Regions from separate parts of the Homo sapiens genome. Here all the other regions are linked to region 2. The links come from fine-mapping of genetic effects on gene expression. A gene starts in region 2. Each other region holds a variant in brackets. All regions are shown on one strand. Distances are between the middles of the regions.

What was found.
Region 1: its variant is fine-mapped to the expression of TIMM13 in whole blood (INTERVAL, PIP 0.99).
Region 3: its variant is fine-mapped to the expression of TIMM13 in whole blood (INTERVAL, PIP above 0.99).

The regions. Positions count from the first base shown.
Region 1 is chr19:2,390,260-2,400,751 of GRCh38, reverse strand. It overlaps TMPRSS9 (transmembrane serine protease 9), which reads right to left. Exons shown (of 19, transcript NM_001395513.1): 3 at 4,086-4,213; 4 at 1,890-1,957; 5 at 1,559-1,734. Among named protein-coding and RNA genes, the nearest start is that of TIMM13, 32 kb to the left of the region's middle. RefSeq lists an enhancer at 6,289-6,378. The variant C/T (reference allele first, on the strand shown) is at 5,897.
Region 2 is chr19:2,422,200-2,432,691 of GRCh38, reverse strand. TIMM13 (translocase of inner mitochondrial membrane 13) reads left to right here and starts at 5,106. Exons shown (of 3, transcript NM_012458.4): 1 at 5,106-5,278; 2 at 5,368-5,436; 3 at 5,646-7,067. The coding sequence starts at 5,159. The coding sequence ends at 5,744. It overlaps TMPRSS9 (transmembrane serine protease 9), which reads right to left. Exons shown (of 19, transcript NM_001395513.1): 15 at 10,445-10,492; 16 at 8,435-8,603; 17 at 7,425-7,690; 18 at 7,199-7,335; 19 at 6,431-6,765. The coding sequence ends at 6,604. LMNB2 (lamin B2) reads left to right here. Exons shown (of 12, transcript NM_032737.4): 9 at 169-276; 10 at 790-909; 11 at 1,034-1,144; 12 at 1,740-4,526. The coding sequence ends at 1,781. RefSeq lists enhancers at 4,636-4,785, 4,870-5,615, 5,616-6,359 and a silencer at 5,336-5,425.
Region 3 is chr19:2,456,810-2,467,301 of GRCh38, reverse strand. It overlaps LINC01775 (long intergenic non-protein coding RNA 1775), which reads left to right and starts at 5,117. Exons shown (of 2, transcript NR_134931.1): 1 at 5,117-5,321; 2 at 8,202-8,365. It overlaps LMNB2 (lamin B2), which reads left to right and starts at 10,343. Exons shown (of 12, transcript NM_032737.4): 1 at 10,343-10,492. The coding sequence starts at 10,369. RefSeq lists silencers at 4,861-4,930, 10,245-10,424. The variant G/C (reference allele first, on the strand shown) is at 5,495.

The DNA.
Region 1 (10,492 bases), 32 kb after region 2:
TCCACCCACCTCGGCCTCCCAAAGTGCTGGGATTACAGGCATGAGCCACCACACCTGGCAACAAATCTTTAACAATGGTCTGAACTTGCATCTGACTCTCCAATCATGACCTGCTGCACCGTACAATTTTGTTTTTTATTTTTTAAAACCAGGTGCATACAAAATCATGCACTGTATAATTTTATTTTTTATTTTTATTAATTTTTTTTTGAGATGGAGTCTCACTCTGTCACCCAGGCTGGAGTGCAGTAGTGCAACCTTGGCTCACTGCAACCTCCGCCTCCTGGGTTCCAGCAATTCTCCTGCCTCAGCCTCCTGAGCAGCTGGGATTACAGGCACGTGCCACCACACCCAGCTCATTTTTGTATTTTTAGTAGAGACGGGGTTTCGCCATGTTGGCCAGGCTGGTCTCGAACTCCTGATCTGAAGTGATCAGCCCACCTTGGCCTCCCAAATTGCTGGAATTACAGGCATAAGCCACCACACCCGGCCTTCCATACAATTTTATTAGAGTGTAGCATTTATCCTTGATTCTACAGTAGGGGGTTGGCCAACTACGGCCATAGGCCAAATCCAGCCCACTGCTTGTTATTTTTAATAAGTTTTATTGGTAAACAGCCACACCTATTCATTTATGTATTGTCTGTGGCTACTTTTGTGCTACAAATAACAGAGCTGAGTGCTTGTCACAGAAACCCAACGGACCACAAAGATGAAAATATTAACTGGGCACGTGGCTCACACCTATAATCCCAGCACTTTGGGAGGCCAAGGCAGGAGGATCACCTGAGGTCAGGAGTCCAAGACCAGCCCAGTACACATGGTGAAACCCCATCTCACTAAAAATACAAAAATTAGCCAGGCGTGGTGGTGCGTGCCTGTAATCCCAGCTACTCGGGAGTGAGTCGGGAGCTACTGAGGCAGGAAAATTGCTTGAACCTGGGAGGCAGAAGCTGCAGTGAGCCAAGACTTCATTATTGCACTCCAGACTGGGCAACAGAGTGAGATCCTGTCTCAAAAATAAAAAAAATGGAAAAGAAAAGAGAAGACAAGACAAGACAACACAACACAACACAACACTCTGGCTCTTTACAGAACAAGATGGCTGACCCCTTATCCACACCATTAAGGCAAAGGCAATGTCAGTTTTTACATTTGTTTGTTTGTTTGTTTTTGAAACGAAGTTTCACTCTTTTTGCCCAGGCTGGAGTGCAATGGCACGATCTCGGCTCACTGCAACCTCCGCCTCCCAGGTTGAAGCAGTTCTCCTGCCTCAGCCTCCTGTGTAGGTAGGATTACAGGTGCACACCACCACGCCCAACTGATTTTTGTATTTTTAGTACAGATGGGGTGTTGGCCAGGCTGGTCTCAAACTCCTGACCTCAGGTGATCCACCCGCCTCGGCCTCCCAAAATGCTGGGGTTGCAGGCATGAGCCACCACACCCGGCCAGTTTGTTTTCTTTTTATGGGAAGGGGTGGTTATCAAAATGTATCTTGCAGCTCCTGCCCCACTCCAGCCTCCTCGTGATGGGGTTTCGGTCTCGGCTGCCCACTCACCTGTGAGCTCAGCCGACACAATTGTGCCATAGGCAGCCAGGGAGATGCCGTGCTCCCGCAGCCTTGCCCGGATCCCTCGCTGCAATAGCTCCTCCTCCAGGCCCAGGCTCAGCGTCTGGAGGGGTCGCAGCAGAAAGTGCAGCTGGAAATGTACGAGGACACTGGAGTTCCCATCCCTACAGGTATGGAGGAGAGGCCCTTGGAGAGGGAGGGGCTCCGCCCTGCTGGAATCTTCTGGAATCTTCTAGAATCTTCCAAACTTTTCTGGACTCCTCCAGAAACTCCCAGATGTCCACCAAGTTTCCTTCACCCAATGGAAGCTCCAACTCACCTATAATTCAGTACCGAGCAACCCACGCAGCTTGCCTCTAACTCTGTCTTCTGAAAACTACTTACAAACTGCAATAGAAACAAGAATATCAAATGTTGAGACCCACAGCATGGGCACCCTGGCACTGCAGAGGCCTGTCAGGTGTTGGAGGGAGCTGGAGAAGGGGTTGGTTCCATGGGAAAGCATTTCCTTTTATTATTTTAAATTTTTATCTATATGTACGTATGTATGTATGTATGTATTGTGAGACAGAGTCTTGCTCTGTCACCCAGGCTGGAGTGCAGTAGTGCATTCTCCACTCACTGCAACCTCCGCCTCCCAGGTTCAAGCGATTCTGCTGCCTCAGCCTCCCAAGAAGCTGGGATTACAGGTGCCCGCCACCATGCCCAACTAATTTTTTGTATTTTTAGTAGAAATGGGGTTTCACTATGTTGGCCAGGCTGGTCTCGAACTCCTGACCTTGTGATCCACCTGCCTTGGTTTTCCACAGTGCTAGGATTACAGTTGTGAGCCACCACGCCCAGACTTATGTTTTATTTTTAAATTTTTTATTATTATTATTATTTTGAGACAGAGTCTTGCTCTGTCGCCTGGGGTGGAGTGCAGTGGCACGATCTCGGCTCATTGCAACTTCCGTCTCTCAGGTTCAAGCAATTCTCCTGCCTCAGCCTCCCAAGTAGCTGGGATTACAGGCACACACCACCATGCGTGGCTAATTTTTTGTATTTTTTAGTAGGGACAGGGTTTCACTATGTTGGCCAGGCTGGTCTTGAACTCCTGACCTCGTGATCCGCCCACCTCAGCCTCCCAAATTAGCTGGGCATGGTGGTGTGTGCCTGCACTCCCAGCTACTCGGGAGGCTGAGGTGGGAGGATTGCTTGAGCCCAGGAGGCGTCACAGGCGTGAGCCACCACGCCCAGCCTATTTTTAAAAATTGTTTTTTAAGATGGAGTCTCACTCGGTCACCCAGGCTGGAGTGCAATGGCACGATCTTGGCTCACTGCAACTTCTGCCTCCTGGGCTCAGGCAATCCTCCCACCTCAGCCTCCCGAGTAGCTGAGACTACAGGCACACACCACCACGCCCCGCTAATTTTTGTGTTTTTACTAATGGTGGGATTTTGTCATGTTGCTCAGGCTGGTCTCAAAACTCCTGACCTCAGGTATCCACTCTCCTCGGCCTCCCAAAGTGCTGGGATTACAGATGTGAGCCACCCACCGTGCCCGCCTGGAGTGCTGTTTTTAATACGTGATTGCTGATGTGGTCACACGTCTGTTTCTCTTCGAATAAAATGGAAAACATTATTTTTTCATTAAAATATAATTCGCTGTGTCCTGTGTCCAAGCCTGGCCCCTTTTCCTGGCTGAGTCATATTCCAGTGTGTGCATAGCCACGCTGTGTTTCCCTGTTCATCCTAGGTGGTGGGTGCCTGTAACCCTGGCTACTCAGGAGGCTGAGACAGGAGAATCGCTTGAACCCGGGAGGCAGAGGTTGCAGTGAGCCATGATCCTGCCACTGCACTCCAGCCTGGACAACAGAGCAAGACTCCGTCTCAAAAAAATAAAATAAAATACCTTCCCCCAGCTGTGCATGAGGGCTCTGATTCCCCTTTAGAATAAAATGTAAAACTCTAAATGTGGCAGGTTGGGTACGGTGACTCACGCCTGTAATCCCAGCACTTTGGGAGGCCGTGGAGGGAAGATCATTTGAGGTCAGGAGTTCAAGACCATCCTGTCCTACATGGTGAAACCCCGTCTCTACTAAAAATACAAAAATCAGCTGGACGTGGTGGCGTGCACCTGTAATCCCAGCTACTCGGGAGGCTGAGGCAGGAGAATCGCTTGAACCTGAGCAGCGGAGCTTGCAGTGAGCCGAGATCATTCCACTGCACCCCAGCCTGGGTGACAGAGTGAGACTCCGTCTCAAGAAAAAAAAGAAAAAAAAAAAAACCTCTAAATGTGGCCTAAAGTCCCATGTGAGTGTGTCCTCAGTGGATACAGCTCTGCCTTGCAGGTATCTGCCTTGGCCACCTGGCCTCGTCCTGCCCGCCCCCTGGCCTGGCCTCCCGGTCTCACAGCCTCCACCTCAGCTTCGTTGCCTGTGGCCTGCCTCCCTCCCACACGGAAAGCACCTCCAGGTCAAAGCCCCCGGCCACCCGCTCTTCCTCCCTGGCCCCCAAACACAGACCACCCTCACCAGTGCCTCCAGGGTGGGCGTCAGCGTGCGGTGATAGTCCGAGGTCTCCCGCCGCAAACTGCTGGTCCACCGGATTCCCCGCAGCTCGGCCGTGTGGTCCACGTGGAAGCCCTGTGTAGAGAGGAAGGCTGGGGACGAGACCAGGGCCCGTGAGAGAGCCCACCTTTGGGGGCTCAGGGCTCCGCTGAGCTGCCACCCAGGCCCCGCCCTGTTTGCACTCACACACCCTGGTGGTCACTCCTGACACGCAGTGGGGTGGTCGACGCCCCCGTGATAGCCCTGAATAGCTACTCACAGGGCTCTCCCTCAATTCCCAAAAGCATCCTGGTTTGGAGCCGAATTCTATGACAGCCACCCACCCGGAGGTCCCCAGGTACAGCACAAGGTGGATGAGTGCCAAGTGAGCCCCAGATGCCCCCGTGTTTTCCTCGAAGGCAGAAAGAGGTCCTGCTCATGCCTGTCTCCCATGCAGTGCCTGGCCCAGGATCTGAGCTGACTTCAGGGCGTAACCTCTGGAATGGCATCAGGAGACGGTGAAATGACAGTCCCCGCCTCCTATGGCAGGGGCATGAGCACAGCCAGAGGCCATCAGGACTCTCCGGCCACAGTCCCATGAGGTCATCTTCAAAAACCACTGGTTGGTTTGTGTTTGTTTGTTTGAGACAGAGTCTCGCTCTGTCGCCCAGGCTGGAGTGCGGTGGCGCAATCTCGGCTCACTGCAAGCTGCGCCTCCCGGGTTCATGCCATTCTCCTGCCTCAGCCTCCCGAGTAGCTGGGACTACAGGCACCCACGACCACGCGTGGCTAATTTTTTTGTATTTTTAGTAGAGACGGGATTTCACTGTGTTAGCCAGGATGGTCTCTATCTCCTGACCTCGTGATCCGCCCTCCTCGGCCTCCCAAAGTGCTCAGATTACAGGCGTGAGCCACCACACCCGGCCTGTTTGTTTTGAGACAGAGTTTTGCTCTTGTTGCCCACACTGGAGTGCAATGGCATGATCTCGCCTCACTGTAACCTCCGCCTCCCGGGTTCAAGCAATTCTCCTGCCGCCTCAGCCTCCGGAGTAGCTGAGATTACAGGCATGCACCACCATACCCAGCTAGTACAGATGGGGTTTCTCCATGTTGGCCAGGCTGGTCTCAAACTCCCGACCTCAGATGATCCGCCAGCCTTGGCTTCCCAAAGCACTGGGATTAACAGGCATGAGCCACCGCGCCCGGCCTTGTTTGTTTTGAGATAGGGTCTCACTCTGTCACCCAGGCTGGAGTGCAGTGGTGTTTTCTCAGCTCGCTGCAACCTCCATCTCCCGGGTTCAAGCGATCCTCCTGCCTCAGCCTCCTGCCTCAACCTGCTGAGTAGCTGGGATTACAGGCGTGGACCACCACACCTGGCTAGTTTTTTTGTATTTTTAGTACAGACTGGATTTCACCATGTTGGCCAGGCTGCTCTGGAACTCCTGACCTCAGGTGATCCACCCGCCTTGGCCTCCCGAAGTGCTGAGATTACAGGCGTGAGCCACTGCACCCAGCGTTAATTTTTGTATTTTTAGCAGAGATGGGGTTTCGCCACATTGGCCAGGCTGGTCGGGAACTCCTGACCTCAGGTGATCTGCCCGCCTCAGCCTGCCAAAGTGCCGGGATGACAGGCGTGAGCCACCACGCCAGGCAGAAAGCACTGGTTTTTAGCTGTTGGCTGTGTTGTGTCCAAAGTACAAAGTACAGCAAAAATAATAGTCATAAAAAATTCCTATGCTGATGCAAGCAGCAGCAGAAAAAAATCTAAATAAAAACTACGAGAGCAACCACAGAAA[C/T]CATGAGAGCACGAGTTTTGGTCAAAAATACGTTAAAACTACCAGAAGTGCACACCAGCGCAAAAAAAATGGCCGTAATTACAACATTTAAACCATGCAAATAGCAACCGCGTAAACCGTGAAAGCTGGGTCCCAATTCCGTTTATCCTAAATGGATAGATATGCTAGATGGGTATTTACGTAGCCATATATTCAGTAGATAGAATATTCTGAACCAATTCTAAAAACGGTATGTTTTCTCGTTCAAGAAACTAAAGAAACACGAGCACCCTGGTGGGCGGACTGAATTGCCCCGCCTCTGTGTCCCAACCTCACTCTGTTTCTACTCTAAACAACTGCAGATTCAGGAAGTTGCAGAAATAGTTCAGAACGCCTCCCGCTCTCCACTCAGCCTCTCATCTCCAACTAAAATGGTGAGCTGTTTGCGAAGGGCTGAATTCTCATTTTTATTTTTTTAAATGTTTTATTTTTTTGAGACAAGGTCTCTATTGTTCGGGCTTCAGTGCAGTGGCACAATCACTGCTCACTGCAGCCTCGACCTCATGGGCTCAGGTGATCCTCCTGCCTTAGCCTCCCAAGTAGCTAGACCACAGAGACCACAGGCGCCCACTATCACGCCTGGCTGGCTAGCTTTCTCTTTCCTTCTCTTTTCTTGACACAGTCTCACACTCTGTTGCCAGGCTGGGATGCAGTGGCACGATCTTGGCTCAGTGCAACCTCTGCCTCCTGGGTCCAAGCGATTCCCTTGCCTTAGCTTCCCGAGTAGCTAGGACTACAGGCACATGCCACCATGACCAACTAATGTTTTTTGTATTTTAGTAGAGACGGGGTTTCATCATGTTGGCCAGGATGGTTTCAATCTCCTGACCTCATGATCCGCCCAACCCGGCCTCCCAGAGTGCTGGGATTACAGGTGGGAGCCACCGCGCCCAGCTTTTTTTTTTTTTTTTTTTTTTTGGAGACATGGTCTCCCTTTGTTGCCCAGGTTGGAGTGCAGTGGCATGATCTCGGCTCACTGCAACCTCCACTTCCCGGGTTCAAGCAATTCTCCAACCTCAGCCTCCTGAGTAGCTGGGATTACAGGCGCGTACCAGTCTGCCCAGCTAATTTTTGTATTTTAGTAAAGACAGGGTTTCACCCATGTTGGCCAGGCTGGTCTCAAACTCCTGACCTCATGATCTACCTGCCTCAGCCTCCCAAAGTGCTGGGATTACCGGGGTGAGCTACTATGCCTGGCCCTGGCTAATTGTTTGCATTCTTTTGTAGAGACAGGGTTTCCCCATGTTACTGTGTCCGAAATTCGTGGGTTCTTGGTCTCACTGACTTCAAGAATGAAGCTGCGGATCCTCACGCTGAGTGTTACATTTCTTAAAGATGGTGTGTCCGGAGTTTGTTCTTGCTGATGTTCGGATGTGTTCGGAATTTCTTCCTTCTGGTGGGTTCGTGGTCTTGCTTGCTTCAGGAGTGACGCTGTAGACCTTCCCAGGGAGTGTTGCAGCTCTTAAGGCAGCGTGTCTGGAGTTGTTCATTCCTCCTGGTGGGTTTGTGGTTTTGCTGGCCTCAGGAGTGAAACTGCAGACCTTCACAGTGAGTGTTACAGCTCATAAAAGCATCTCACACCCAACGAGTGAGCAGCAGCAAGATTTCTCGCAGAGAATTAAAAAACAAATCCTCTACACTGTGAAAAGGTCCCCAAGCCGGTTGCCGCTGCTGGCTCCAGCAGTCCGCTTTTATTCCCTTATCTGGCCCCACCCACATCCTCCTGATTGGCCCATTTTACAGAGCGCTGATTGGTCCATTTTACAGAGAGCTGACTGGTCCGTTTTGACAGGGTGCTGATTGGTGTGTTTACAATCCCTGAGCTAGACGCAGGGTGCTGATTGGTGCATTTACAAATCTTTAGCTAGACACAAAAGTTCTCCAAGTCCCCACTAGATTAGCTAGACACAGAACACTGATTGGTGCGATTGGTGCATTTGCAAACCTTGAGCTAGACACAGGGTGCTCATTGGTGCATTTACAAACCTTTAGCTAGACTTAAAATTTCTCCAAGTCCCCACTAGATTAGCTAGACACAGAGCACTGATTGGTGTGTTTATAAACCTTGAGCTAGACACAGAGTGCTTATTGGTGCATTTACAATCCTCTAGTTAGACATAAAAGTTATCCAAGTCCCCACCAGATTAGCTAGACACAGAGTGTTCACTGGTGCATATACAATCCTCCAGCTAGACATAACAATTCTTCAAGTCCCCACTCGACTCAGGAGCCCAGCTGGCTTCGCCCGGCCCTGGCTAATTTTCTGCATTTTTTGTAGAGACAGGGTTTCACCATGTTACCAGGCTGAACTGGAACTCCTGGGCTCAAGCAATCCTCCCGTTTCAGCGTCCCAGAGAGCTGGGATTACTGGCGTGAGCCACTACGCCTGGCATCATGTCCTTTTTTCTTTTTCTTTTTTATTTTTTATCAGGGTGTCACTCTGTCTCCCAAGCTGGAGTGCAGTGGTGTGATCATAGCTCACTGCAGGCTCCAACTCCTGGGCTCAAGCAATCCTCCCACCTCAGTCTCCCGAGTAGCAGGGACTACTGGCACGCACAACCACTCATTTTCACTGAAAACATTATAAAATTTTAATTTTAAATGTTTCTTGTCTTCATTATTTAATTTTTTGTAGAGATGGGGTCTTGCTATGTTGCCTAGGTTGGTCTCGAACTCCTGAGCTCAAGCAATCCTCCTGCCTCAGCCTCCCAGAGTGCTGGGATTACAGGCAGGAGCCACCACACTTGGCCTTAAGTGCTTCTTGAAAGACTTCCTGATGGGGCGTGGTGGCTCATGTCTGTAATCCCAGCACTTTCGGAGGCCAAGGCAGGTGGATCACTTGAGGTCAGCAGTTTGAGACCATCCTGGCCAATATGGCAAAACCCTATCTCTACTAAAAATACAAAAATTAGCTCGGCGTAGTGGCACACACCTGTAATCTCAGCTACCCAGGAGGCTGAGGCAGGAGAATCGCTTGAACCTGGGTGGTGGAGGTTGTGATGAGCTGAGATTGTGCCACTGCACTCTGTCGCGCCTGGGAGACAGAGTGAGACTCCATCTCAAAAAAAAAAAAAAAGACTTCCTTTCCTTTCAGGGGGGTCCTGATGGGAATTATATTTATCTGTTTTTCCCAAAATGTATTTGTTACAATGCAGATGAGAAACTCTGCCCCGCCCCTGCCTCTCACTAGGTGATGGACACACACACACACACACGCATGCACACATAGATACACACGCAGACACACACATGCATGCACAAACGCATGCAAATGAACACGTGTGCACCATGCACACACTCATGAACACACAAATACACTCACACGAGGAACCCAAATTGTATTGTACTTGGTACCTACAGCCACTAGAGGGCCTCAGTCAAACATGTCTGGCTCTGGGAGTTTCCAGAAGTTCCACAAATATTTTTTAAAAAAAAGAAAAAAGAAAAAAAAAAACCTAGGAGGATTCTCATAGGATCGCGAACTTACTATTTTGCCACACGAGAGCATTTCTCCCCAAATTGCTGTTTATTATCATCATTTAAATGTTAAAATTAACTTTTTTTTTTTTTTTTTTTTTTGAGATGGAATTGCTCTGTTGCCCAGGCTGGACTGCAAGGGCATGATCTCGGCTCACTGCAATCTCTGCCTCCTCCTGGGCTCAAGCAATTCTCCTGCCTCAGCCTCCCAAGTAGCTGGGATAACAGGCGTGCACCACCATGCTCAGCTATCTTCCTTCCTTCCTGCCTACCTGCCTGCCTGCCTCCCTCCCTCCCTCCCTCCCTTTCTTTCTTTCTTTCTTTCTTGTATTTTTAGTAGAGATGGGGTTTCACCATGTTGGTCAGGGTGGTCTCGAACTCCTGACCTCATGATCTGCTCACTTCAGCCTCCCAAAAAGTTGAGATTACAGGTATGAGCCACTGCACCCGGCCTTATTTTAAATTTATTATTATGTTTTTATTTTTTGAGATAGAGTCTCACTCTGTCACCCAGGCTGGAGTGCAGTGGTGCGATCTCAGCTCACTGCAACCTCTGCCTCCCAGGTTCAAGCGATTCTCCTGCCTCAGCCTCCTGAGTAGCTGGGACTGCAGGTGCCACCACGCCTGGGTAATTTTTTGTATTTTCTGTAGAGGCAGGGCTTTATCATGTTGCCTAGGCTGTTCTCAAACTCCTGGGCTCCGATGGTCCTCCCGCCTCAGCCTCCCAAAGTGCTGGGATTACAGGCGGGAGCCACCACGCCCAACCCAGTTGCTCGGTTTTATAAAAATACTTTTGGGGCCGGGCGCGGTGGCTCATGCCTGTAATCCCAGCACTTTGGGAGGCTGAGGCGGGCGGATCATGAGGTCAGGAGATCGAGACCATCCTGGCTAACACGGTGAAACCCCGTCTCTACTAAAAATACAAAAAATTAGCCGGGGGTGGTGGCGGGCGCCTGTAGTCCCAGCTACTCGGGGAGGCTGACACAGGAGAACGGTGTGAACCCGGGAGGTGGAGCTTGCAGTGAGCCGAGATATCACACCACTGCACTCCAGCCTGGGCGACAGAGAGAGACTCCGTCT
Region 2 (10,492 bases):
GGACGAGGCAGGGGACAAGGTGACTGGAATGACCAGGGCATGGGGGTAATGGGGTGACCTAGCTGGTGGGGGTGACCAGGGTCAGGGTGATGGGGCCACCAGCCAGGGCGATGGGGGCGGTGTCACAGTCCTGGTGGCTGAGGGTCAGGTGTGTGCCGTGTCTTCCAGGATCAGTCTCTGGGGAACTGGAGAATCAAGAGGCAGGTCTTGGAGGGGGAGGAGATCGCCTACAAGTTCACGCCCAAGTACATCCTGCGCGCCGGCCAGATGGTCACGGTAGGTGGTGGGGCAGGAGGGCGAGGGTGGCCACGGATGGGGTGTGAGGTGGGGTCAGGGGACTGGAGGCACAGGACTTGGCGGGGGTGGGTGGGGATGATGGTGGCACCAGGCACCGTCTCAGAGCGGCTGCCGCAGTCATAGAACCTCCATGTGCTGGTGTCACCCCACTGGGCCTCCCTGGAGCCTGAGTGGTGTGCCCTGGGTCTGAGTCCAGGCTGCTGGGGCTGGCAGGCGTCCCCGTGAAGTGTTAACAGTCAGGCGCATGGGCCATGGAGCCTGGTGGGTGTCAGATCCCAGTTCAGCCCCTGCTTGCCAAGAGCCCTTGGCCTCTGTGAACCCTGGTCTCTTCTTGTGTATCCTGGGGACCATCACCCTGGATAAGCCTGCGTCGGGCTGGAAGGACTGAACGCCCAGGGCATTGAAGGGGGCTTTGTGGTAGGGGCCACTGGCTGGCCCACGTCCCTGGAACCAGAGGTGACCCTGATGGGGCCATTGTTATTGGGTCCTCAGGTGTGGGCAGCTGGTGCGGGGGTGGCCCACAGCCCCCCCTCGACGCTGGTGTGGAAGGGCCAGAGCAGCTGGGGCACGGGCGAGAGCTTCCGCACCGTCCTGGTTAACGCGGATGGCGAGGTGGGTGTGTGTGGCTTGGGGGGTGCTCGGCTGGAGTCCTGGGCAGGGTCTGGGCACCCTCGGGGCCGCCACAGCAGCTCTGGGCCCGATCCCGGGACATGCCGCCGTGTCCTGTCCCGCACAGGAAGTGGCCATGAGGACTGTGAAGAAGTCCTCGGTGATGCGTGAGAATGAGAATGGGGAGGAAGAGGAGGAGGAAGCCGAGTTTGGCGAGGAGGATCTTTTCCACCAACAGGTAGGACCCCTGTGCCCACTTGCGGCTGGGGGGCAGCCTCTGGGGCAGAGTGAGCTCGTGCACACACATACACATGCGTGCTGGCCGCATCCCCGACGGGAGCTCCATCTGGCTGCCGTGGCTCAGGGTGAAGCCAGCCTTGGCTGTTACCAGCACGGCAGAGACCTGTTCTTGCCTCCTGGGTCGTGCCCATCGTGTGAATTTGCGACATCACAGACCTCAGGGTAGCTGGCCAGGGGGTCCCCTGAGAGGTGGGTGTTGAACAGCTCCCCAAATGCTCTCTGGTCAACCGGCTTCCTCAGTCGAAGACACAGGTCCCTTCAATACTGGCTTCTGGGGAGAAGATGAGTGCAGAAACCACAGCTGCATTAAACGCGTGCGTCGCAAGTTCCTGTGACTGTTTTGGAACCCAGAACAGAATGTGTAGCTCACAGGCGGGCTCATGGGGACATGGAAGTGGAATGGAAGGCTCTAGAAATAGACACTGTTGTTGCTCAGCCCCTCCCTGGTGGGGAGGTGGGGGCAGCCATCTACCTGCCGGCTGCCTCCAGGCTGGCCCTGATCATGGCCGACCTTCCTTCCTTCCTTCCTGCAGGGGGACCCGAGGACCACCTCAAGAGGCTGCTACGTGATGTGAACCCACACTCCTCATCCACACACCTTTCTTTACCCAGAGCCACTGAAAACTATTTTTATATCATTGGCTTTCTTTAGTTCTTGATACATTTCTAGAGAATTTCTAAGCGAACTGCCAGAACGTGTGGGTGGGTCTCCCCCAGCCCTCCCTCCTGGCGGGTCTCCTCCAGCCTCACTTCGCTGCCACTTCGCCGCTGCCCCGGAGACTTTTCAATCCCACCCCACTCCTCATCTCACCATTTGGTCAAATTGGAAGCCCAGGGCCAGGACCCGGAGGTTTAGAAGATGCTTGGGCTTGGAGGGAGGAGGGCCGGCGAGGCTAGCGAGGGGACAGGAGACGGCCCTGCTGCGGACGGAGCGCGGAAACTGCGTAGGAATTCAGTGGTGGTGGGTTTTTTTAAGGCTTTCTACAAAACCAAATTCAGAATCCAGGCGTCGACCTGGTGGGGCCCGGGGCCAAGCCTGCATTCTGGCTGCCCAGCTTCGGACAGCGGGAACTCCTCAGGCAGCCACGCAGCGGGTGTGGGCCAGCATGGGGATGGCGTGGCCCCCAGGGCGGGTTTTCACTCCGCTGCCTGGGCTTCCAGATTCCCGTTCTGGCAGCGCACCGGCCGGGTTTCTCGGACCGTTGACTTTATTTGGGGGAGTTTTCCCGCAGTTCAGTTCCTGACTGTGCAAGGCCAACAGGGCAGGGGAGGGGAAGACCTGGGGAAGGAAGAATGAGGACAGTCCCGTCGTAAGACCTGTCACAACAATAAGCAGGGAGGGGAGATGTGGAGGGGACACATCTGGTTGCCTTGGAGGCAGAAGCTGTGAGTTTCAGAACAGCTGTCTGCAGGGAACGCCACCATGTTGACCCTCTGGAGGAGAGCGCTGTGGAGCCCCTCCCGTGTTCCAGCTCCGTCTGCCCTGTGCCTATATATACACATGCGTCTATCCATACTGTGCTTTTATCTGTGATTTTCTCGCTGAAACCATGTTTCTCAGACAGGCCAAGGCCACCTGACTCCTATCACGACGCACCCAAGCCCCTCAGTCCAGCTTCCCAATGCCTGGCACCCCCCTTCGGCAATAGCTCACCGTTTACACCCTCCCTCATAGATACACAGAAGTTATTTTTTTAATGGATATTTATTTTTTTACATTGGTCAGTACACAGGTCAGGAGCTCACGCCAGGGCCTTGAGGACAGGCTGACCCTCCTCCCCGGGGTGGCGTGGGGCTGGGGCACCCTCCGACGGCAGAGCCTCCTTCAGAAAGTGCAGCTCAAGTCTTAAAGACACCAAAACTGAGCCATGGGCACGCGCCGTCTCCGGGCCATGGCGTTCACTGCAGGGCGGGGGCGGCACCGCTCCCCTGTGACTGCATCCCGCCTCCCTGGGGACCTGCCTGTGGCAGGAAGGAATGGGGGGCCCCAGCCCCAGGCCGGGAAGGAGCCAGCGGCCGACAAAGCAGAAACACCCGCTGCTCCACGTAGCCCCTGCTCGCTGTCCTTGCTCTCAGAAGTCCCGGTCCCATGTAGATAGAGGGGGGCGCATCTTACCAAAGCATTTCCTCCTGGAGGCTACGCCGCTGTGCTCCCAGTCAGGCGGCTGGTAGGGAGCTTTGCCTGCCCCGGGGATACCCTCTGCCAGCCGCTGGAAGTGGGAATGCTGGCGACAGACTGTGTCCTCTTTCCCACCTTCATAGCAGGAATCACCCGGACCCGACTGGCTGGGCTTCGTGCTAGCGAGGGTTCTGGGGGTGGGTCTTGGTGATCTTGTCCTATGGGGAGTCTGCAGTGGTCTCAGCCACATCCTATGTATTTTGGCTCTGGAGGAGCAAAGCTGTATCCTGGAGTTGGTCTGTGATTTGCCGACAGCCTTGCAGGCTGGGCTCAGGGACAAAGTCCCCCCCAAAACCCGCAGGTCCTCATGTCCAGACGCTGCCCAGTCCTGTCCTGAAAACAGCACGCCCCAGGCCCACAGAACCCCCCACCCTACATTTGCCTTGGGTGGAGCTGGGGGTGGTCCTAGGACTGCGGGTGCCCTTAGCTGAAGGGGGTGGGGAGAAGCGTGGACTGGGCAGCCTGTGGGTAATTGGAGGTTCATTGAGAATTGAGTCTTTGGAAACACTAAGAAAATCAAATTTTTAAAAGTTATTTATGGCCTGGGAAACAATTTGCATTTGTCCCCAAATACGCTTAGCTGTGTGCCGCTTAGAACGATGCGAAACCATCCCTCTGTGTAAGCCCGTGCCGTGTGACTCGAAGCCTAGCGCCCTCCCTGCGAAGCATCAGACGCCACCCAGCCCTGGGGGGAGGCCCACGCCTGCTGGACCAACGCGGGTTCTGGGGTGCACAGCGCCAGGTTAACGCTGAAGCCTGCCCCGCTGAGCCCAGGAGCCGGGAGGCCTGCGGGCTGACCCAGAATCCGATCATGCACCTGTCCTCATGCCAGCGGCTTTGGCTGGGGTTGGTCTGAAGCCTGCACGCGGCAGTTCTTTGTTAAAGATCTGAGGGACTCCTCAGTCCTGGGGCGTCGCCGCCTGCAGCCTCTTCCAAGCCCTGCGTCCAGCGAGCGTCACAGCACAACCTGCAAAAACGGAGCTGGGCTGCAGCTGGGGCTGGCATGGACTTTCATTTCAGAGATTCGGTTTTTAAGAAGATGCATGCCTAATGTGTTCTTTTTTTTTTCCAATGATTTGTAATATACATTTTATGACTGGAAACTTTTTTGTACAACACTCCAATAAACATTTTGATTTTAGGTTCTGCCTCTGAGTTTATTCCTGAGGGGAAGCTCGAGCCGGGGCCTCTGCCCTAATGAAGCGGATGTCTAAGAAAGATCCCTCCACCCCCAAGGAAAAAGGTCACTGGCTAGTGTAGCTAGTGTAAACAGGACCCAGGCGATGCATGGGACCCTGCCCTTTTTTTTCTAGTGAGCCTCCGACGCTGTTGCACAAGCTGACTCTTCGTCACGTGATGCGACCGGGCTCCGCCCCGGCGGCAACACGCTGTATAGACGCGCCGGGTGCCTCGTGCGCATGCGCGGCAGGCCCTTCGGGACGAGCTGGAGGCAGAGCGTGAGTACAAAGTGATCGGCCTCGGCCGCACGTAGTAGCCCCCCTACTCCCCGGCCAAGTCAGGGCCTCCCTCTTCCCGCGGAGTCGCAACCACGGGTAGCTCGTGTAGGTAACGGCAGGTCCAGGCCTCCGCATGAGCGGAGGGCCCCCCGCGCGACCTTGAATGGCCCGGGCGCGCGCGGTCGTGTGGGAGTTGTAGTCCTCCGTCCCCGTCCGCGCGGACTCCGTTTCCCGTGGTGCCCCGGGCGGCCCGCTTCCGGCGCAGTTAGTTACGAGTCGGCGCACGCGGCCTCGGTCCGGTTGACTTTGCGGAGCCATGGAGGGCGGCTTCGGCTCCGATTTCGGGGGCTCCGGCAGCGGGAAGCTGGACCCAGGGCTCATAATGGAGCAGGTGAAAGTGCAGATCGCCGTGGCCAACGCGCAGGAGCTGCTGCAGGTGCGGGGCTGGCCGGGGACGGGCGCTGGGGGCGACAGGGCCACCCCTGGGGGCCGACGTCGCGGCTAAAGCCTCGCGTGTCTCCACAGAGGATGACGGACAAGTGTTTCCGGAAGTGTATAGGGAAACCTGGGGGCTCCCTGGACAACTCCGAGCAGGTGAGACCCGCGGAGGTTCGGGGCAAGGGTCGCGAGGGCCTAGATTCGAGGGGGGAGGTGTCTGCGCGTGCGCAGACTAACGGGGAGGTGCGACGGAGTGGTCACTGCACGTGCGTAGTCTGCAGCCCGGGCGTCCTGGAGCCGGGGTCAGGGCGGTCCCCGGGGCCGCGAAGTCCCGAGCTGAGCCGTGCGCCCCTCCGCTCCCGCAGAAGTGCATCGCCATGTGCATGGACCGCTACATGGACGCCTGGAACACCGTGTCTCGCGCCTACAACTCGCGGCTGCAGCGGGAACGAGCCAACATGTGACCGGCGAGCGCGGGCCACCCCACCCTGTTCATTTCCATAAACGTGCTTTGAGAGGCGGGGTCCGCATGTACGTACTGCCTGCCCGGGGCTTAGGAGGGTGGCACCGGTGCTGGGACACACGGGACTGTGTCCTCGCCACCCCCCGCCCTGCCCCCTGCCAGCCAGTGCAGCTTGGATCTCGGGGGTGTGGGGCCCTGTGCCTTCCTGAAGTGCTGGCAGCCCAGTGGCACCTCCTTCAGGCCTTTGGGGTATTCCCCTAGTGTGCCCAAGTCAGCCTCATATTCTGGGCGGACAGCTTGTCTGGACTTCGGAGTTGGGGGTGGTCAGACACCACAGGAGCTGTCACCTCCTGCGGATGGGCAAATAAATTGGTGGAGGACGGAGAGAAACCTCTTTATTTCCCTCCTGAGGGGTCTCTGGGAAGAGGTGACGCGTGTCCCTGGAACCCCAGCTCGGAGGGTCTCAGCCTCCCCTGGGTTGGGAGAAGTCCATCTTTCCCCTTAGTGCCACCGGGCTGCTGAGTCACGAGGAATGTGTTGCTGCTGCCACCCCTGCCCCAAAGGCTAAGGGGGACAGCCTTCCCCTTGTCAGGGCTTGCTTTGACCCTGCTTCGTTCCACCCCGGGTCCTGGTGGAGCACCAGGCAGGTGGTCCTCGCTGTGACACTGAGGTGCTGAGCCAGTGAGCTAGGGTGGAGGGGCTGTGTTTATTGGAACAAAGGGTGGTACCAAAATGCATCCCCATGACCCACAGCCCCCCCACACCCGTCCTTGGGTAGGGTACGGTGGGGTGGGGTGTTGGGTGGCCTGCTGCTCCTGTTGCTTTCACGTAGAGTCTCGGCCTGGGCAGTCACGTGGTGGTCACTCCTGGATGTGCTGTCCTATCCAGCCTCTCACAGCTGCCACCCGGGTATAGACACCTGGGAAGTGGGGCCGGCCACAGCCATAGCCCCAGCTAGTGACCCCAGTTAGCACCCACCGTCCAGAGGGCTCCCTGCAGGCCAGGGGTCCCCCAGCGTCACCCTGTTGGGGAGAGAAGAAAGGGGGTTCAGAGGCCGGTACCTCCCCTACAGCAGCCCTTGGGTCATTGGCCCCTCTAGGAGTGACCCTAGTGACTTCCCCTGGGAGCCGCATTTTCACTATCTGGAAAATGGGCTCAATGCAAAGGTGGCAGACATTTATGGACACCCGCCACGTGGTCCCGGAGTGGAACGGTGCCTCCCACTGCAGCCTCTGCCTGCTCTGCCGCCGAGGCCCGGGGATGGGATGCGGTGGGTTGCCCAATAAACGGCTGTGGAGTGGAAATTCCTCCAGAGCCAAAAAGGCTCCCTGCTTGATCCGCTGGAGAAGCCTGCACCGGAGGGTGGCTCCCGGATGGTGGGCTTCGTGGCAGCGGGAACCCGCCCTCCCCGGCGGCTGGGCGGGACCTGGTCCCCTGGGCCGGGGCGGGGCTCACCGAGCAGCTGTCCACGCCACCCTGCGGGAAGCCGGCACACAGCATGCGGCTGCTGATCTGCACTGGGTAGAAGCGGCGGCAGGTCTGCTCGCTGAGGAGGCGCACGGCCGCCTTCTGCAGCTGCCGCGCCATGGAGCCTGCGGGCGGGCGAGCGAGACGGGGCGGGTGGGGACCGCGTCCGGCCGCCCCCCGAGCCCCGCACCACCGCGGCCCCGGGCGCGCCTACCTCCTTCGCGCACCGAGCCCCAGCCGGTGATGACGCAGCGCGTGCCGTCCGGGGGTCGCGGCGCGGGCTCGGGCAGGCAGATGGGACGCACCAGGCGGCTGCGACGCACCGGCCCCGCCAGCTCCAGCAGCGCCACGTCGTAGTCGAGCGTGTAGAGATTGTAGAACGGGTGCTTGTAGATGCGCGCCACGCGCTCCAGCTGCCCCTCCGCGCCGCTCAGGAACGGCGTGCCTAGGAAGGCCGCCCACTGCTTGGGGTCCCCGTAGCTGCGGGGCGCGCGAGGACAGGCGTCGGCCCGAGCCCCCACGCCCCCGGCCCCCGCCCCTGTGGTGTCCCCCAGCGGCCGGCTGGCACCCTGGGCAGGGTTATTGGCCTCTTGGTCTCTGGCTGTCGGTCTGGGAATGGGCTCAGTCTCCCCCATCAGGCACCGAGGCGGCACCGGGAACTGCAGCCGTCACCACCTAATATGAGCGCTCTGAAAAGGGGTCTAGTGGCCGTGCGAGTCCCGCCCCCCGCCTGCCCTCCCCTTCTGACCTCCAGCCCTGCAGAGCCCAGAGCTGGGTGTCCCCTCTGGAAAACCGGACCCCTCGACTGCCAGGGCTTGGGCCCTGGGGAGGGCAGCTTTCTACTGGGTGGGCTTTGGGGGGCTGGAGCCAAGTCCCAGGGGCGAGGGCTGGGGAAAGAAGTGACCCCAATGTTCCCGTGGGCTTAGCCTGGAGCTGGAGGGGGGGGGCCGCAGCTTCCGGGTTAGGTGGGGACCGCGGGGTAGGACTCGGCCTTCGCAGCCCCAGCCCCGTGTGGTCAGGCTAGGGGGTGGGTGGTCAGGGGAGGGCTGCAGGGAGCGAGGATGGGGAGATGGGGGGTGGGAGGAGTGGCCTGGGGCAGTGGGAGCCGGGGTTGGGGAGGGCACTCCCGGCAAAGGAGGGGGTCAGGGTGCGTTTTCGGGCAACAGTTCGGTTCCGGGTGAGCTACAGAGACATGTAGGGGCATTTGGAGCGTTTGGAACTCACACGTCGAAGCAGTGCGCCGCCGACAGCAGCCACCTCTCTGCCACCAGCACGGCCCCGCAACGGTGTTCCCGGCGCCGCAGCCACAGGCTCACCTGCCACGGCCACTCCCCACGGCCCGCTGCGCTGCCGCCCACAATCCTGGTGAGCGCGGCCGGCGCCAGGCCACAGTCTGCGGGGGAGCCAGGCGCGTGGGCAGGCGGACCCAGGGCACCTCCTCCACGAAGGCCCCCCTGGGCGCCGCCTCTCCACGAATCCCCCTGGGAGCCCCAGGGAGTAGGTTGTGATGGGGGACCTATCCCAGGAAAACTCAGCAGGAAAGGACACTGGGCCTGCTGCTTGGTCTTTGGGCTTTTCTCAAATAACATTGGAAATGCATTTGTTTCCTATGACTTCAGTTTTGGGACCATACGTTTCCCCTGCCGGAGGCCCCTCTCATGGCAGCCTCCCACATCTCCGTCTTCCAGGAGTTCCCTCCCACCCCAAGGCCTTTGCACACACCAGGGCCCCGCCCCAGAGGCCCCAGCCCTGCCTTGGTGCCCTCTGCCTGGATCCCTGATCACCTCCAAGCCCTCCCCAGACGGTGCCAAGCGCAAAGGCCTTCCTCAGAACCCAGCTGTGGAAAGAACACGTGGGTGGTTTCCAGGGGGTTTCAGGGACCCTGTTACCACCCATGGAGGGGGTCCCATACCCACCTGCTGTCTCCAGAGGCGTGTTTTCCTCCTCAGGGGCAAGCCCCCCCGCCGCCCTCTATCACCACCCAGCTGGCTTCCCTGGGTCCCCCCCGCCCCCCACCCCCCACCAACCGCCATCCAACCCGCAGCAGCTACCAAGGCCAGTAAGGGGAAATGCCAGTTCCCCACCAGCCTTGGCACCGTCTGGCCCTGACATAAGACCAGGTGGCCTTGGATAATCTGACAGCAGCCGCAGCCGCTGTCCTTGGGAACACCAGCTACCTCCACACAGAACCCGCCTGTATTTTGAGGGGGGCCTTCTCCACCTCTTTTGGGCCCAAAGAGATCCCACGCCATAGCTATTGAAAAAGTCAAAATCAGCTGAGACTGAGAAAGTGAGAGCCCCCAGGCTGCAGGGACAGACCTACATGAGGGCAGCTGCCAAGTTAGCAAGAAACACGCACCCAAGGACATGGCACAGCTGTGAACCATCAAAGTCCCTGCTTTCATTTTTTTTTTTTTTTTTAATTTTTTTAGAGACAGGCTGTGTCACCCAGGCTGGAGTATAATGGCATGATCTCGGCTCACTGCAGCCTCTGCTTCCTGAGCTCAAATGATTCTCCTGTCTCAGCCTCCCCAGTAGCTGGAACCACAGGCATGCACCATCACGCCTGGCTTTTTATTTTTATTACTATTATCTAGCTGGAGTCTCACTCTGTTGCCCAGGCTGGAGTGCAATGGCACGATCTCGGCTCACTGCAACCTCCACCTCCTGGGTTCAAGCGATTCTCCTGCCTCAGCCTCCCAAGTAGCTGGGATTACAGGCACCTGTCACCATGCCTGGCTTTTTTTATTTATTTTTTTGTAGAGATGGGGTTTCACCATGTTGGCCAGGCTGGTCTGGAACTCCTGACCTCTGGCGATCCACCCGCCTTGGCCTCCCAAAGTGCTGGGATTACAGGCATGAGCCACCGCGCCCAGCCAGAGAGGCCGTTATGTCTTTTTCTTTTTTGAGACGGAGTTTCGCTTGTTGCCAGGCTGGAGTGCAGTGGCATGCAGCTCACTGCAAGCTCCGCCTCCCGGCTTCATGCCATTCTCCTGCCTTAGCCTCCCGCGTAGTTGGGACTACAGGCGCCCACCACCACGCCTGGCTAATTTTTTGTATTTTTTTAGTAGAGACAAGGTTTCACCGTGTTCGCCAGGATGGTCTCGATCTCCTGACCTCTTGATCCGCCCGCCTCGGCCTCCCAAAGTGGACGACGTTATGTCTTGTTAGGCAGCCCAGGCTGATTAACATGGGACCCTCCACTCCCAGGGATCCCTCCGTCTCTCCCGGTACCTGGTAGCTGGGTGTGTGTGGTGGCCTCCGGGGCGTCTGGAAATGGCG
Region 3 (10,492 bases), 35 kb before region 2:
GGTTGTCAGTCCAGGTGGAGCCACGGGTGTCAGACATGCAAAACACGTGGAAAGACATCTCAAAAGGCCAAACTACAATAATGGTGTTATTTGCAGGAGTAATTGGGGGAACCACATCTCTTTTTTTTTGTTTTTTTTTTGTTTTTTTTTTGTTTTTTTGCATGCTGAGTTTCGCTTTGTCGCCCAGGCTGGAGTGCAGTGGTGAGATCTCGGCTCACTGCAACCTCTGCCTCCCAGGTTCAAGCGATTCTCCTGCCTCAGCCTCCCAAGTATTTGGGACTACAGGCATGGGCTACCAAGCCTGGTTAATTTTTGTATTTTTAGTACAGATGGGGTTGCACCATGTTGGCCAGGCTGGTCTTGAACTCCTGGCCTCAAGTGATCCACCCGCCTTGGCCTCCCAAAGTGCTGGGATTACAGGCGTGAGCCGCCGCACCTGGCCTGGAAGCTGCATATCTTATAACCTCCAGAATAACGTTTGCACCTTAACAGATGTCAGGCTCCCCTCCTCCCTCAACCTGAAGGCCTCAGGTTAGCTTGACAAAAGCTGTTGGGTTTTGTGCAAGGTCTACTATCACTTAAACTGTAGCCTAAATGTCTTCCCAAGTTAGCTGGGCCCAATAGCCCAGGAATAATTAAGGCAAGATGGGGGTTAGTTAGTTTAGCCTACTGTTATAATTTTCTCGGCTGGACGTGGTGGCTCACGCCTGTAATTCCAGCACTTTGGGAGGCCAAGGCGGGCGGATCACGAGGTCATGAGATCGAGACCATCCTGGCCAACATGGTGAAACCCCATCTCTACTAAAAATACAAAACTTAGCTGGGCATGGTGGCGCGTGCCTGTAGTCCCAGCTATTTGGGAGGCTGAGGCAGCAGAATCGCTTGAACCCGGGAGGCGGAGGTTGCAGTGAGCCGAGATTGTGCCACTGCACTCCAGCCTGGGCGACAGAGCGAGACTCCGTCTCAAAAAAAAAAAATTTTTTTTTCTCACTGATAGAACTTTTGCAAAGGCGCTTTCAGCTAATTTTATTTTTTGTAGATATGGGGCCCTGCTCTGTTACCCAGGCTGGTCTTGAACTCCTGGCCTCAAGCGATCCTTCCTCCTTGGCCTCCCAAAGGGCTGGGATCACAGGATGAGCAGCTACTGCACCCGGCTGTATGATGCTTAATTTTTTTTTTTTTTTTTTTTTTTTTGGTGACAGAATCTCAGTCTCAGTCTGTCACCCGGGATGGAGTGCAGTGGTGCAATCTTGGCTCACTGCAACCTCCACCTCATGGGTTCAAGTGATTCTTATGCCTCAACCTCCCCAGTAGCTGGGACTACAGGCACCTACCACCACGCCTGGCTAATTTATGTATTTTTTAGTAGAGACGGGGTTTTGCCATGTTGGCCAGGCTGGTCTTGAACTCCTGACCTCAAGTGATCCACCAGCCTCAGCCTCCCAAAGTGCTGGGATTACAGGCGTGAGCCACCGCGCCCCGCCCGGTGGTTAATTTTATATGCCATCATGGCTGGGCTGTGGGTGCCTGCATATTTGGTCAAACATTACTCTGTGCATGCCGGTGAGGGGGTTATTAGATGAGATGAGCCTTTGACCCTTTGCATCAGTAGACTCACTGAGTCACTCAAACCCACTACCCTCCCTAGCACGGGTGGGCCTTGCGGAATTCACTGAAGGCCCGGATGGAATACAGAGGCTGCCACTCCCCTGGGGAGCAGAGAATTCCTCCCACCTGAAGGCCTTCAGACTGGAACATCAGCTTTTTCCTGTCTTCAGACTCAAACAGAAAGATCAGCTCTCAGCCGGGCATGGTGGCTCACGCCTGTAATCCCAGCATTTTGGGAGGCAGGAGACTTGAGGTCAGGAGTTTGAGACCAGCCTTTCCAACATGGTGAAACCCTGTCTCTACTAAAAATACAAAAATTAGCCGGGCGTGATGGCGCATGCCTGTAATCCCAGCTACTCGGGAGGCTAAGGGGGGAGGATCATTTGAGCCCAGGAGGCAGAGGTTGCAGTGAGCCGAGATCATGCCACTGCTCTCCAGCTGGGGCAACAGAGCGAAGCTCCATCTCAAAAAAAATAAAAATAAAAAGGAACATCGGCTCTCTTGGGTCTCCAGCTTGCAGACTTCAGATGTTGTGACTTGTCAGCCCCCGTGCATCAATACCTTATAATAAATCTCTTGGCCGAGTGTGGTGGCTCACGCCTGTAATCCCAGCACTTTGGGAGGCCAAGGCAGGCGGATCACCTGAAGTCGGAAGTTCAAGACCAGCCTAATCAACATGGAGAAACCCCATCTCTACTAGAAATACAAAATTAGCCAGGTGTGGTGGCGCATGCCTGTAATCCCAGCTACTGGGGAGGCTGAGGCAGGAGAATCGCTTGAACCCGGGAAGCAGAGATTGTGGTGAGCCGAGATTGCATCATTGCACTCCAGCCTGGGCAACAAGAGCAAAACTCTGTCTCAAAAAAAAAAAAAAAATCTCTTATTCTCTCTCCCCTCCTGCTGGTTCTGTTTCTCTGGAGAACCCTGACTAATTCACCCCCAGCTCCTCCTGATGAACGGAGGCAGGCCCTGGACAGCAGTGGGCCAGGATTTGAGGCTCTTGGTCTAACAGTCTGCAAGGAACAGAATCCTTCTGACCACGTGTGAGTGAGTCTAGAAGTGGACTCTGCCCCAGAGACACCTTGGTTGCCACCTTTCAGAGCCCTGAGACAGAGGATGCCAAAGTTAAGCCACATCTGGATTCCTGACCCACAGAAACTGTGAGATAAGAAAAGTGAATATAAGCTGGGCACGGTGGCTCATGCCGGTAATTCCAGCACTCTGGGAGGCCAAGGCAGGCAGATGACTTGAGCCAAGGAGTTTGAGACCAGCCTGGGCAACATAGCGAGACCCTGTCTTGCCCTTTTCTAAGAGGCCCACCTCTACCCCTACTCCACACATGCCCCAGCATTTACCCCACTTTCTTTCTTCCTCATGCTCACCATCCTCTAGCATGCCATACAATTCACTTATTTATTTATTTATTTATTTATTTTTGAGACAGAGTCTCACTCCATCACCCAGGCTGGAGTGCAGTGGCATAATCTCGGCTCACTGCAACCTCCGCCTCCCGAGTTCAAGCAATTCTCGTGCCTCAGCCTCCTAAGTAGCTGAAATTACAAGCGTGCTCCCTCATGCCCGGCTAATTTTTGTATTTTTAATAGAGATAGGGTTTCACTGTGTTGGCTGGGCTGGTCTCAAACTCTTGGCTTCAGGTGATCTGCCCGCCTCGGCCTCCCAAAGTGTTGGGATTACAGGTGTGAGCCACCAAGCCCAGCCCTATTTATTTATTTTTGAGACAGGGTCTTACTCTTGTCACCCAGGCTGGAGGGCAGTGACTCAATCTCTGCTCACTGCAGCCTCTACCTTCTGGGCTCAAGTGATCCTCCCACCTGAGCCTCCCAAGTAGCTGGGACTGCAGGCATGAGTCACCACGCCTAGCTAATTTTTGTATATTTTGTAGAGATGGGCTTTCACTATGTTGTCCAGGCTGGTCTCGAACTCCTGGCCTCAAGCAATCCTTCTGCCTCGGCCTCTCTAAATGCTGGGATAGCAGGTGTGAACCACTGCGCCCTACCTAATTCACTTATTTATAATGTGTACTCGCTTCCCCTCTGTCCCCCCAGTGCCTGCCACAAAGTAGAAGCCACGCAAATATGTGTTGATTTCACTGTTCCATTCACTCATTTAACAGGCAGCTGCCAGCCACGGCCCCAGAGCTCTGCTTGCCTCCCGGATTTCTGTTGGGGTCACAAGGTTCCAACTCCAGGGTCCTGAATTCTGATCTTAGATACCAGGTTTGGCCTTCAAGTTCTGGAATCTATGTTCCAGAATTCGGCTTCCCAAGACCCACAGCCCAGAATCCAGGCTCCAGAATTCAGGCTCCCCGAGATCCAGGCTTCAGAATCCGAGCTCCCTCAGACCCAAGCTCCGAATCCGGGCTCCCTGAGATCCAGGTTCCGGAATCCGGGCTCCTGGAGATCCAGGCTCCGGAATCCGAGCTCCCTCAGATCCAGGTTCCGGAATCCGGGCTCCCCGAGATCCAGGCTCCGGAATCCGAGCTCCCTCAGAACCAGGCTCTGGAATCCGGGCTCCTCCAGATCCAGGTTCCGGAATCCGGGCTCCAGGCTCGCATTCCGGGCTGGGAGCCAGCCACAGCCGTTAGGCTGAGATTTTTAAAATCTGGCGCCAAAATCCACTCCCCGGGTGGGAGTGGCGGTGCCGGGTGGAGGTCAGTGGAATGGACGGGTCGGGACTGGGGCCCTCACGGGCTGCATAGTCCCAGGGTCCGGGATTTCTCTCCCGCGGCCCCGTACCCTCTCCCCAAAAGCAGACAGCAGTTGGTCACTAACTTTCTTTTCTTTTCTTTTCTTTTTTTTTTTTTCAGACGAAGGTTCGCTTTTGTAGCCCGGGCTGGAGTGCAATGGCGCGATCTTGGCTCACTGCAACCTCCGCCTCCTGGGTTCAAGCGATTCTCCTGCCTCAGCCTTCCGAGTAGCTGGGGTCACAGGCGCCTGCCACCACGCCCGGCTAATTTTTTTTTTTTTTTTTTTAAGTGGAGACGGGGTTTCGCCATGGTGGTCATTCTGGTCTCGCACTCCTGACCTCAGGTGATCCGCCCGCCTCGGACTCCCAAAGTTGGGATTACAGGCGTGAGCCACCGCGCCCAGCCAATTGGTCACTAATTTCTAGCTCCCGGGGGAAAGAGGGTCCCGCGTTCGAATCCCGCCTCCGCTACGCCCCTGGTGCGGATTCCCCGACCGGTCCCTAACCTTCCTGTGCCTCAGTTTTCCATAATGGAAATGGGCCCGGAGCCCCCTGGCGCGTGTGGTGCCTTGGGAGGCCCCTCGGAATGGACGGGGCAGCTTTGCGGGATGCCCCAGACCTCGGGCTCTGGGCGCAGCTGCCAGCAGCAGCCTGGGCGTGGGTGCCCCCGGGGGGACCACGGTCTCAGCTGTCACCGCCCCTCCCGTTCGGCGCCAAAATTTGAAAATTGCCCAGCGCCTCCCAAACTGCGCGCTGGGAGGGGGAAAGCCCCGGGCCCCACCCACGGGAAGCGCGGGGCTTTCTGGGACTTGGAGTCCAGTCCCTGGGGGTCCCGCGGGGATGGCTCTGGGCACCCGAAGCCCCTCCCCAGCGCCGAGACAGGAGGGCTGGGGTAGATTCGAGACCCCGGTTTGCAGAGCGCAAGACTGAGGCCCAGGGCCGCGCAGTCAGGCAGGAAACGGCGCTCCTGGCGGATGGAACAGCACGGGCAAAGGCTGGGTATGGGGGTATGTGGGGATGGAAGTGCCCAGAGGGGCAGCGCGATGGGGTTGGGGGCGGGACCCCGCAGGGCCTCCAGTAAGGGGCTAGTTGGGGGATCTGGTCAGCCAGTGGCCAAGGCCGGTGGTCAGTGAGAAGTTGATGCGGAGCGGGGGGGCGGTTTCAGATCAGTCTGAGGGTG[G/C]AGAATAGGAAAAGTGACCCGGCCGGGCGTGGTGGCTCATACCAGTAATCCCAGCACTTTGGGAGGCCGAGGCTGGCAGATCACCTGAGATCAGGAGTTCGAGACCAGCCTGGTCCAACATGGTGAAACCCCGTCTCTACTAAAAACACAAAAATTAGCCGGGCGTTGTGGCACATGCCTGTAGTCCCAGCTACTCAGGAGGCTCAGGCAGGAGAATCACAAGAACCCAGGAGGCGGAGGTTGCAGAGAGCTGAGATCGTGCACTTCAGCCTGGGCTACAGAGCAAGACTCTGTCTCAAAAAAAAAAAAAAGTGACCCCATTTCCCACCCAAACCTCAATCATCCTTCTCCCCTCTGGCCCCGCCTCCTGTAGTATTATTTATTTCCCATTGTGCTTTACCATCTGTCTTTATATTTTATATTCCTCCCTTTATGAGGAAGGAAAACAGTATCAGTCCTCTAAATACGCAGTCACTGCTTAGCTCCCTCTTGCCTGGCTGGTTTATTTGTTGTTTGTTTTGAGAAAGAGTCTTGCAGCTGGGCACGGTGTCTCACGCCTGTAATCCCAGCACTTTGCAGGGCCGAGGTGGGCGGATCATTTGAGGTCAGGAGTTCAAGACCAGCCTGGCCAACATGGTGAAACCCCGTCTCTAGCAAAAATTAGCTGGGCCGTAGTGGCGCACGCCTGTAATCCCAGCTACTCGGGAGGCTGAGGCAGGAGAATCACTTGACCCTGGGAGGTGGAGGTTGTAGTAAGCCGAGATCAAGCCACTGCACTGCAATCTGGGTGACAGGGTGAGACCCTGTCCCCCCTGCCAAAAAAAAAAAAAAAGAGAGAGAGAGTCTTGCGCTGTCATCCAGGCTGGAGTGAAATGGTGCAATCATAGCTCACTGCAGCCTCCACCTCCTGGGCTTAAGCCATCTCCTTGACTCGGCCTCCCAAGTAGCTGGGGATACAGATGCACGCCACCACGACCAACTAATTAAAAAAATTTTTTTGTAGGGGCCGGGTGCAGTGGCTCACACCTGTAATCCCAGCACTTTGCGAAACCGAGGTGAGCAGATCACTTGAGGTCCAGAGTTCAAGACCAGCCTGGCCAACATGAGGAAACTCTACAAAAATACAAAAATTAGCCAGGCATGGTGGCGCATGCCTGTCATCCCAGCTACTCAGGAGGCTGAGGCAGGAGAATCTCTTGAACCCAGGAGGAGGAGGTTGCAGTGAGCCAAGATTGGGCCACTGCACTCCAGCCTGGGGGACAGAAAGACTCTGTCTCCAAAAAAAAAAAAAAAAAAAAAACTGTAGAGTATTGTAGAGTTGGGTCTTGCTATGTTGCCCAGGCTGGTCTCAAACTCCTGGGCTCAAGCCATTTTCTTGTCTCAGCCTCCCAGAGTGGCTGGGATTGCAGGTGTGAGCCACCATGCCAGGCTTCCTGCCTGGGTTCTAAGGCTGGGGGTCTATCTGGTAAGAGGGGAATAATAGCGAGTGAATGTTGGCTGTTGGAGGCAGGTGGGCTCTTTCCCCTGGTGTCCTCAGTAGGCTGGAAAGGGCATTAGATTCTCAGTGTGTGATTTACTGGGGTCTCTGGCAGAGGCTGAGCCAAACCCCCAAGGTGAGATGTGTAAAAAGGAGGAGTTCCCCAGGCAGAAGGAAGACCGGGCCAGTTCTAGGTCAGGAGGAAGTTATTCTCCAATTGGGGCAATTTTGCCCCTCTGGTGACATGTGGCAATCTCTGGAGACATACTTGGTTTTCATAACTAGGGGGCCGGGGTCGGACGCGGTGGCTGACGCCTGTAATCCCAGCAACGTGGGAGGCCAAGGCGGGCAGATCATTTGAGGTCAGGAGTTCAAGACCAGCCTGGCCAACATGGCAAAACCCTGTCTCTACTAAAAATACAGAAACTTAGCCGGGCATGGTGGCAAGTGCCTGTAATCCCAGCTACTCGGGAGAGTGAGGCAGGAGAATCGCTGGAACCCGGGAGGCGGAGGTTGCAATGAGCCGAGATCACGCCACTGCACTGCAGCCTGGGCCACAGAGCGAGACCCGCCTCAACTAAAAATAAAAATAAAATAAAAAATAAGTATGAGGCTGGGATGCTCGTGGCATGGAGTGGGTGGAGACCGAGGATGCTGCTCAATACCCTGTAATGGACAGCACCTCCTGACTCCAACCCCCTGCAACAGAGAGTGATCTGGCCCCAAATATCTAGTGCAGAGTTGGAGAAACACTGCTGTATAGGTTGTCTTGTTAAATTACAATTTTGGGGGGTTTTTTTTGGAGACGGAGTCTTGCTCTGTCGCCCAGGCTGGAGTGCAGTGGTGTGATCTCAGCTCACTGCAACCTTTGCCTCCTGGGTTCAAGCGATTCTCGTGCCTCAGCCTCCCAAGTAGCTGGGATTACAGGCGTACACCACCACGCCTGGCTAATTTTTGTACTTTTTGGAGAGACAGGTTTTTGCCATTTTGGCCAGGCTGGTCTCGAACTCCTGGCCTCAGGTGGTCTGCCCGCCTCGGCCTCCCAAAGTGCTGAGATTACAGGCATGAGCCACCGCGCCTGGCCTTGTTAAATAAAATGTATGGCAGGCCATTGTTTTAGACAATGGGGTCTCTAGTCCCCAGCAGACCAGATAAAATTGGAATGGAGTCACTAGTGCCAGGTACCACGTAGTCAAACTGATCTTTTATTTTTTTTATTTTTTGAAATAGGGTCTCGCTCCGTTGCCCACACTGGAGTGCAGTGGCGCAATCATGGCTGACTGCAGACTTGAACTCCTGGATGCAAGCCATTCTCCTGCCTCAGCCTCCCGAGGAGCTGGGACTACAGGTGTGTGCCAGCACATGTGGCTAATTATTAAAAATTTTTTTGGCTGGGTGCCGTGGCTCACGCCTGTAACTGCAGCACTTTGGGAGGTCGAGGTGGGTGGATCACGAGGTCAGGAGTTCAGGACCAGCCTGGCCAAGATGGTGAAACCAGGTCTCTACTAAAAATACAAACATTAGCTGGGCATGGTGGCGGGTGCCTGTAATCCCAGCTACTCGGGAGGCAGAGAATTGCTTGAACCCAGGAGGTGGAGGTTGCAGTGAGCCGAGATCATGCCATTGCACTCCAGCCTGGGTGACAAGAGCAAGACTCTGTCTCCAAAAAAAAAAAATTTTTTTTTTTGGAGACAGAGTCTCACTATGTTGCCCAGGATGTTCTCAAACTCCTAGGCTTAAGCGATCTCCCCATCTCAGCCTCCCAAAGTGCTGAGATTACAGGTGAGAGCCACCCGTACCTGGCCTCAAACTGAACTTTAAAGGGTGCAGGTTTTCAAAAAAAAACATTCACAGCCACCAAGCCAAAGGGGACCGGTTAACCTGATAGGGAAGTACCCTCAAAATAGAGGGGGTTAAAACAGACCCTATGAAAAAAGTAACTTTGAAACAACCAATTGGTTTTTATTTCGTATTTTTATTTTTACTTTTTTTGAGACAAACTCTCACTCTGTCACCCAGGCTGGAATGCAGTGATGTGATCAGGGCTCACTGCAACCTTGACCTCTCTTGCTCAAACAATCCTGCCACCTTAGCCTCCCAAATACCTAGGACTATAGGCGCCCAGCTAATTTTTTTTTTTTTTTTTTTTTGAGGTGGAGTCTTACTCTGTTGCCTAGGCTGGAGTGCAGTGGTTCAATCTTGGCTCCCTGCAACCTCCGCCTCCCGGGTTAAAGCAATTCTCCTGCCTCAGCTTCCCGAGTAGCTGAGACTACAGGCATGTGCCACCATGCCTGGCTAATTTTTGTATTTTTAGTAGAGACGGGATTTCACCATATTGGTCAGGCTGGTCTCGAACTCCTGACCTCATGATCTGCCCGGCTTGGCCTCCTAAAGTGCTGGGAATACAGGTGTGAGCCACTGCACCTGGCTAATTTTTTTATTTTTATTTTTAGAAATGGGGTCTTGCTATGTTGCCCAGGCCAGTCTCAAACTCCTGGGCTCAGGCTATCCTCCCACCTCCGCCTCCCAAAGTGCTGGCATTACAGGCGTGAGCAAACCACTGTACCTGGCCTGGCTTTTATTTTAATTCTTATTTCTCCTTTCTTCAGCCTTTTCTGCCTGTAATGCAGAATGCCCATCCTCTCTGCTCAGCTCATTGGAGTGCCTATTTAATAGATTGAATGCTATCCAATTCATGAATTGCTAATAAGAGCCAATGAGATCATTAAACTCAATTTGTTGAAATTCATACTCCTTGACAGCCTCTTCTGGACATTTTATATCAGTGGCATTGTACACTATATGGCTTTTTTTTTTTTTTTTTTTTTTTTTTGAGACAAAGTTTCTCATTGTTGCCCAGGCTGGAGTGCAGTGCCGCGATCTTGGCTTACTGCAACCTCCACGTCCCAAGTTCAAGAGATTCTCCTGCCTCAGCCTCCCAAGTAGCTGGGATTACCGGCGCGCGCCTCCGTAGTAGAGATGGTGTGGGGGGGTCTCCCTATGTGGTCCAGGCTGATCTCGAAATTCTTTTCTCAAGTGATCCACCGGCCTTGGCCTCCCAAAGTGCTGGGATTACAGGCGTGAGCCACCACGCCCGGCCCTATATGGCCTTTTGTGTCTGGTTCTTTGAACACGTTTTGAGGTTCTCTAAGTGGGGAAACAGGTACTAGAAAGCAACCCAACGCTGTTTCCTCGTGGCGGAGCTGGGAGTTTGCAGCCAGGAAGTCTGTCTCTGGAGTCAGCGCCTCTGCGAAGCGAGAGCTGGACGGAGACTTCAACTTCCGGCGTGCCCCGCGCGCGCCCGGCGGTCGGACTACCAGTCCCAGGCTGCCCCGCCGCGGCGGGCGGCGGGCGCGGCGCGGCGCGGCGCCATCTTGCAGCCGGCGGCGCGGATTGAATGAGCCCGCCGAGCCCGGGCCGCCGTCGGGAGCAGCGCAGGCCGCGAGCCGCCGCCACCATGGCCACGCCGCTGCCCGGCCGCGCGGGCGGGCCCGCCACGCCGCTGTCGCCCACGCGCCTGT